Homo sapiens: one gene and its partner. The protein of the gene in region 1 interacts with the protein of each later gene in a pairwise test. Each region holds a gene or a part of one and is shown on either strand. Other genes may lie near its edges.

Region 1 (4,033 bases):
TTAGTGAATCCAGTGAACAAGGACAGCACTGTGCACACTTAGGAAATTAGAGTAATTTATTTCATCCCATGCACCAGCTATCTAAAAGTCTTTATTGAAATTTAGGGCTGGGTGTGATGGCTCACACCTGTAACCCCAGCACTTAGGGAGGTCAAGGTGGGAGGATCACCTGAGGCCAGGAGTTCAAGACAAGCCTGGGCAACACGATGAAACTCCTTCTCTACAAAAAATACAAAAATTAGCTGGGCATGATGGCATGTCCCTGTAGTCCCAGCTACTTGGGAGGCTGAGGTGGAGGATGGCTTGATCCCAAGAGGCTGAGGTTGCAGTGAGCCAAGATCACACCACTGCTGTCAAGCCCAAATGACAGACCAAGACCCTGTCTCCAAAGGAAAAAAAAGAAGAGTTGGGAGTGGAACTGTACATGGTTAATAACCCTGGACTTTGCTCTTTGTGGAAGCATTGGCCTTCAGGAATTTGGTGAGACTCCCAAATGTATCAGTGCAGTTAGTCTCCCTAAGGGATGGTTGTTAGGTGCTTCCTATGCCATTTGATGCTGAGGAAGACTAATTCTGTGTTTTTGTTTTGTTTTTTGTTTTTCTTCTGAGACGGAGTTTCGCTCTTGTTGCCCAGGCTGGAATGCAGTGGCACGATTTCAGGTCAATGGCACAATCTCGGCTCAGTGCAACCTCTGCCTCCTGGGTTCAAGCGATTTTCTTGCCTCAGCCTCCCTAGTAGCTGGAATTACAGGCACCTGCCACCACGCCCAGCTAATTTTTGTATTTTTAATAGAGATGGGGTTTCTCCATGTTGACCAGGCTGGTCTCGAACTCCTGACCTCAGGTGATCTGCCCACCTCAGCCTCCCAATGTGCTGGGATTACAGGTGTGAGCCACCGCACCCGGCCTAATTCTGTGTTTTCAAGATGTTCCTGCTAACTGGATTTTACTGATAATTATTTGGTTATGATTCTCACTACTTTTATTTATTTGTGAGTTATCTTGCCATAAAACCTTCTCATATATGTGCCAACTCTGCATCTCCTGTGATGACAGATTCTCCAAAGTAGTGAATCCAATTAATTTGAATACATATAATTTGGAGGAATAAAAGGTGTTTCTTCAGTGTGCACTAAGCCTTTTCTCAAGCTTATCGAGGACTTAATTTTCACTTGAAAGCACACCTCTTCCAAAAGAATGATCACCTGCAGACTTTTCTTTGAAGAAGCCCATGAATAGAAGTTAAATAACCAATTAATTTCTAGGAAAACATTTCATTTCCTAGGATAGTCCGTGGCTTGTCAGAAGTGGCGACATACAAGCTCATATCCAGAAATTTTGTTTCTGTTATGATAGGAAAGGGATTTTAAAAAAAAACTATTTTATTTTTTTAAGTTCCAGCATACATGTGCAGAATGTGCAGGTTTGTTACATAGATAAACGTGCCATGGTGGTTTGCTGCAGCTATCAACCCATCACCTAAGTATTAAGTCCAGCATGTATTAGCTCTTTTCCTTAATGCTCTTCTCCCGCCCTGCCCTCCCTCTTTTTTTTCTTAAAGAGGTGGAGTCTCATTATGTAAGCCCAGCTGGTCTTGAAATCCTGGGCTCCAGCTGTCCTCTGCCCTCACCTCAACCTCCTGAGTAGCTGGGATTACAGGTGCACACCACTGTGCCCATTTGGGAAAGGGAATTTAACCACTTTTCTCTTACTTTCATTCTGGTGCTTTTATTGAACACTTGGTCTCTGATGATACTTTAACTAGGGTTTCATGCTAGAAAAAAATCTAACTCTGGTGAGCTGTTGCAGGAGTTTGGGTTATGAAGAATGGAAACTAGGAGGGGGCCACATTAGAAATACACAATAGCCAGGCGTGGTAGCTCACGCCTGAAATCCCAGCACTTTGGGAAGCTGAGGCAGGCAGATCACTTGAGCTCAGGAGTTCAAGACCAGCCTGGGCAACATGGTGAGACCCCCATCTCTGCTAAAAATACAAAAATAATTAGGTGGGTATGGTGGCGTACGCCTGTGGTCCCAGCTACTCAGGAGGCTGAGGTGGGAGGATGGCTTGAACCCAGGAGGCAGAGGTTGCAGTGAGCCGAGATTGTGCCACTGCACTCCAACCTGGGCAACAGAATGAGACCCTATCTCAAAAAGAAGAAGAAGAAAAAAGAAAAAAAAACAAGAAACTCTTGCTTCTACTCTTTTATCTTCAAATCAACATGTATGGTATCATTTGCAAGTAACATGTACTAACCCATATTTCTTTCAACCAGGCAGTGATAACCTTTTAGTAATCTTGAAAAGAAAATGGTGGAAGTACATCCTGCTGGGACTAGCAGATGTGGAAGCTAATTATGTGATCGTCAGAGCCTACCAGTACACAACTCTAACCAGTGTCCAGGTAAGAGGGAGCCCTCTGACCACTTTGGATTTTATAGCTTCAAAAGAAGAACACGAAGTCATATGTGTTGACCTAATTTTATTGAAAATCTATTCACTTGAAGAAAACCTAAACACAGGTGGATGCTGTTTTCTAGTAGAGCATATGCTCTAATGAGTAATGTTTCCTAGAATTAGTGAAAATGTATACAACTTAAGCTGCCCCCAAACTGCTATGGCAGATTAGAACAGTTCCTACCAAATAAGCATAAATATTTAGTTGGCAGTTGATGCTGTGGTGTTGACACGTGTTCTGTTTTATATGCTGCTCAAACATGGCATATGAAAGTATACCTTTGTTCTATAGGAAAGTTGAAGCTTTGCAAGCATAGTAGATATTCATGACAAAGAAACCATTGGAAGAAACCCAGTAGACATTTTTGGGAGAGGTGGTAGCCAGAGTTAAAACTCCCATCCCTATTTCTTTGTTAGGTTTATTCTTGCTGCATTGAAAGAAAAATATTCCTACATTGCAGAGGTTTTCAACTTTGTAAAGTTGAAGACAACTGATTTCAGTTGTCTTAATGTTAGCAAACTATGGGATGTTTCCTAACACTGACTCACCATTACTGACTACAAAATGTTTTATAAGTGGAGGTGAAAGTGAGATAGACTCAAATGCCAGGTTTAGATGTCACAGTTTGTTTATAACTTTTTTTTCATTTTTTTAAATAATAAAAAAAAGTGTGTATCAGATGTGGGATTTGAAGTTTATAACTTTTTGATATGTCCCTTTCTCACTATACAAAATACAGAGATGTTCTTACTTGACTCCAAATTTTAGGGACTGGAAAAATTGAAATTAGACTTATTTCGCATAGAAAATATAAGGATTGATGAGAACTCAGTATTTTTCCAGTGTGAACCTACATTAAATGTTACTACCATTATATTAACTACTTTCTTTTCTGTAACATTGTGCTAAGCATTGTTCTCAGGAAACCTCTTGGATTTTGACCAGTATGGGTTAAAAAGCTGAGATAGGAAATGATTTATTAAGACAGACACTATAGGAGGCACAAAAAGAACCTAAAGTTTCGTAAAAATTAAACCCAGCAGTTACCTAGAGAATGAAGTTTATCACTAATAGGAGTAAGTGTACTTTTAGCGTTGGTTAATGAAGTATACATAAGTATGTAGAAAATGGTATTTTCTTGTCACATCTACTCTCATAATCTCACCTACATTTTAATTACTTGATTACAATTCCCAGGAACTTTGATCTCTAACTAATGATAAAAAGTTTTGAATTGGTGCAAGGCCTAAACACAGTTAAACAGAACACTTACAGTTGGATAGTTGCGACTGAAGTTCATGCCTTCTTTCAATTTCAAAGAAATTGAAAACAATTTCTTTCACGCTAGCCTCTTAGAAAAACCTAAGCATTTGGTTGCCAAAAGTCATGCACTTACGGTCCTAGCAAAGAATATATTATAAAAAAGGCATCTAACAAGGTAATGTTTTCTCCAGCAGCAGCGACAGCTGTGATAGGAATGATTCAAGCTGGTTCTCCAACTGAGTAAATCTCTGGCCTGGGTAGTCCAAAAGGATGGAAATCTGGATTAGGTGGTCTTTGAACCTTCTTCTTAAGG
Region 2 (2,392 bases), on another chromosome or scaffold:
GGAAAAGTAAGTTTAAAGTGCTATAATGATAATCAAGTGTTTTCATTTGGTGCGAAAATAGAATTTAATACTTTTATTATATTTTAATAACCAATGCAGTAGAGCTCAGATTTTTTTTTTTTTTTTGAAAGTCTCACTGCATCACCCAGGGTGGAGTGCTGTGGCAAGATCTTGGCTCACTGCAACCCTGCCTCACGGGTTCAAGCGATTCAAGTGCCTCAGCCACATGAGTAGCTGGGACTACAGGTGCACACCACAGTGCCCAGCTAATTTTTGTGTTTTTGGTAGACAGGGTTTTGCCATGTTGGCCAAGCTGGTCTCAAACTCCTGGCCTCAAGTGATCTGCCTGCCTCAGCCTCCCAAAGTGCTGGACTATAGGCATGAGCCACTGCACCCAGCCTGCAGTACTAAGTTTCAAAGAATTAGAAGTACCCAGAACCCATGTGAAAATCCCATAGCTACCACTCCTGAGTATGGAAGTCTCATTAAGACAGTGCAAATAAAATATCAAAAGAAGTTTATTAAAATACATATTTTGTTATACATAAAACTTAGAAATATTTCAAGATTTACATACATCAACTTTTGCAATCTTCCTGCTGGTAAAAATACAAAACAGCAGCATAAGAACCAGTTACTCATATACTCAACTATATTCATGCATACTTAACAAAATGAAAAGTTCTCCTAAAAACTGGCAAGATACAAAATGTCAAATCTAAAATGATATATATACTTACGTTTTTAGCATTCTTACAGATTACAAACCCTTACCAACATTAATCTTGGCCTACTTTAAAGTTGAGTGATAGCATGAACTCTGAAAAGAGAATGCATGGGTTTTCTCACAGCTATATGGCCTTGGACAAGTCACTTGTCAGTTCCCTCATCTACAAAAAGGGGGTTAAAAATATTCACATCACAGAAATGAGATTAAGTAGTTTAACACATAATGGCTAACATTTCATTGCTTACGTGTTTTTGAAACTACAGGGCACTTTTATGGTGTGACTAGTATTTTAAGTAATCAGTGCAACTTAGTATTTTTATCTCTAGCTGAGTATGTGTCTCTCCTTACCTCTACTATGCCCTTTAAATGTTCTTTGCCCACACAATAGTTAATTGTGCTAGGTATAAGTCTGATTCTAATAATAAATTGATATAATACAGTCATCTTAGTGTTAAGACTTATTCTCAGCAGGTAAGAGTTTTAGAACTAGTTCCCTGAAAAAGCTGTATTTATGATAGTTTATGTGCAATCTGTAGGGCCAGGAGCATAGTCTAATCTGACCCAGAATGTCTTTTTGATTTGATATAGGTAAGGCTCTTCGGTGATCCAAGAGCAGCCCCTTTGGGATTTCTGGAAAGCAAATCAACCTGCACTTAGAGTTGCATGGACAGTGGGCCAAAAGTCGTAACACATGCATCATAACTCCAGTCCCTGTTAAAGGGAACTAAAGGGCTTTGATTTAATTGGCCCTCTTAAGCAAAGCTAATAAAAGATTAAGTTGTTGGGCCGGGCGTGGCGGCTCACGCCTATAATCCCAGCATTTTGGGAGGCTGAGGCGAGTGGATCATGAGGTCAGGAGATAGAGACCATCCTGGCTAACACAGTGAAACCCCATCTCTACTAAAAATACAGAAAATTAGCTGGGCGTGGTAGCAGATGCCTGTAGTCCCAGCTACTCGGGAGGCTGAGGCAGGAGAATGGTGTGAACCCGGGAGGCGGGGCTTGCAATGAGCCGAGATCACGCCACTGCACTCCAGCCTGGGCGACAGAGCAAGACTCCGTCTCAAAAAAAAAAAAAAAAAAAAAAAAAAAAGATTAAGTTGTTGGTACTTTTGCATTAGCTTAAGGGAATGTGGTAGAAAATTTAAATGAGTTAAGATGAATAAAGTCCACATGATGCCATCAAAACCTGTTGCAGACCAAGTTACCAACATGATTCTGTTCTAATAAGAATGAGTTTTTAATCCAAGAACTGATTTGACTGACGAGCAGAAAAAAAAACAATCTTAAATTTGCACAAACTATAGAATATGACAAGTATTAGAAAATGCTGGCCCCCAGGCACAGTGTGGCTAACGTCTGTAATCCCAGCACTTTGGGAGGCCAAGGTGGGCAGATCTCTTGAGCCCAGAAGTTTGAGACCAACCTGGGCAATATGGCAAAACCTCGTTTCTACAAAAAACAATTTTTTTAATTAGCCAGGCATGGGGGTGTGTGCCTTGTCCCAGCTGCTCCAGAGGCAGAGGCGGGAGGATCGATTGAGCCTGGGTGGTCGAAACTGCAGTGAGTCATGACCAGACAACTACACTCCAGCCTGGGCAACAAGGTGAGACCCAGTCTCAAAAATTTCTTTTAAAAAGCCACTTTACTCTAACAGTTATC

What was found.
Region 2: the proteins of SLC35F2 (region 1) and TRIM59 interact in a two-hybrid assay, tested with the Homo sapiens proteins (one large-scale study listed by BioGRID).

What each region holds. Positions count from the first base shown.
Region 1 is NC_000011.10:107,810,037-107,814,069, reverse strand, and holds part of SLC35F2 (solute carrier family 35 member F2), read left to right. Parts: intron 1-2,275; coding exon 2,276-2,403; intron 2,404-4,033.
Region 2 is NC_000003.12:160,435,003-160,437,394, forward strand, and holds the end of TRIM59 (tripartite motif-containing protein 59), read right to left. Parts: 3' UTR 501-2,392; downstream 1-500. UniProt on the Homo sapiens protein: E3 ubiquitin ligase involved in different processes such as development and immune response. Serves as a negative regulator for innate immune signaling pathways by suppressing RLR-induced activation of IRF3/7 and NF-kappa-B via interaction with adapter ECSIT.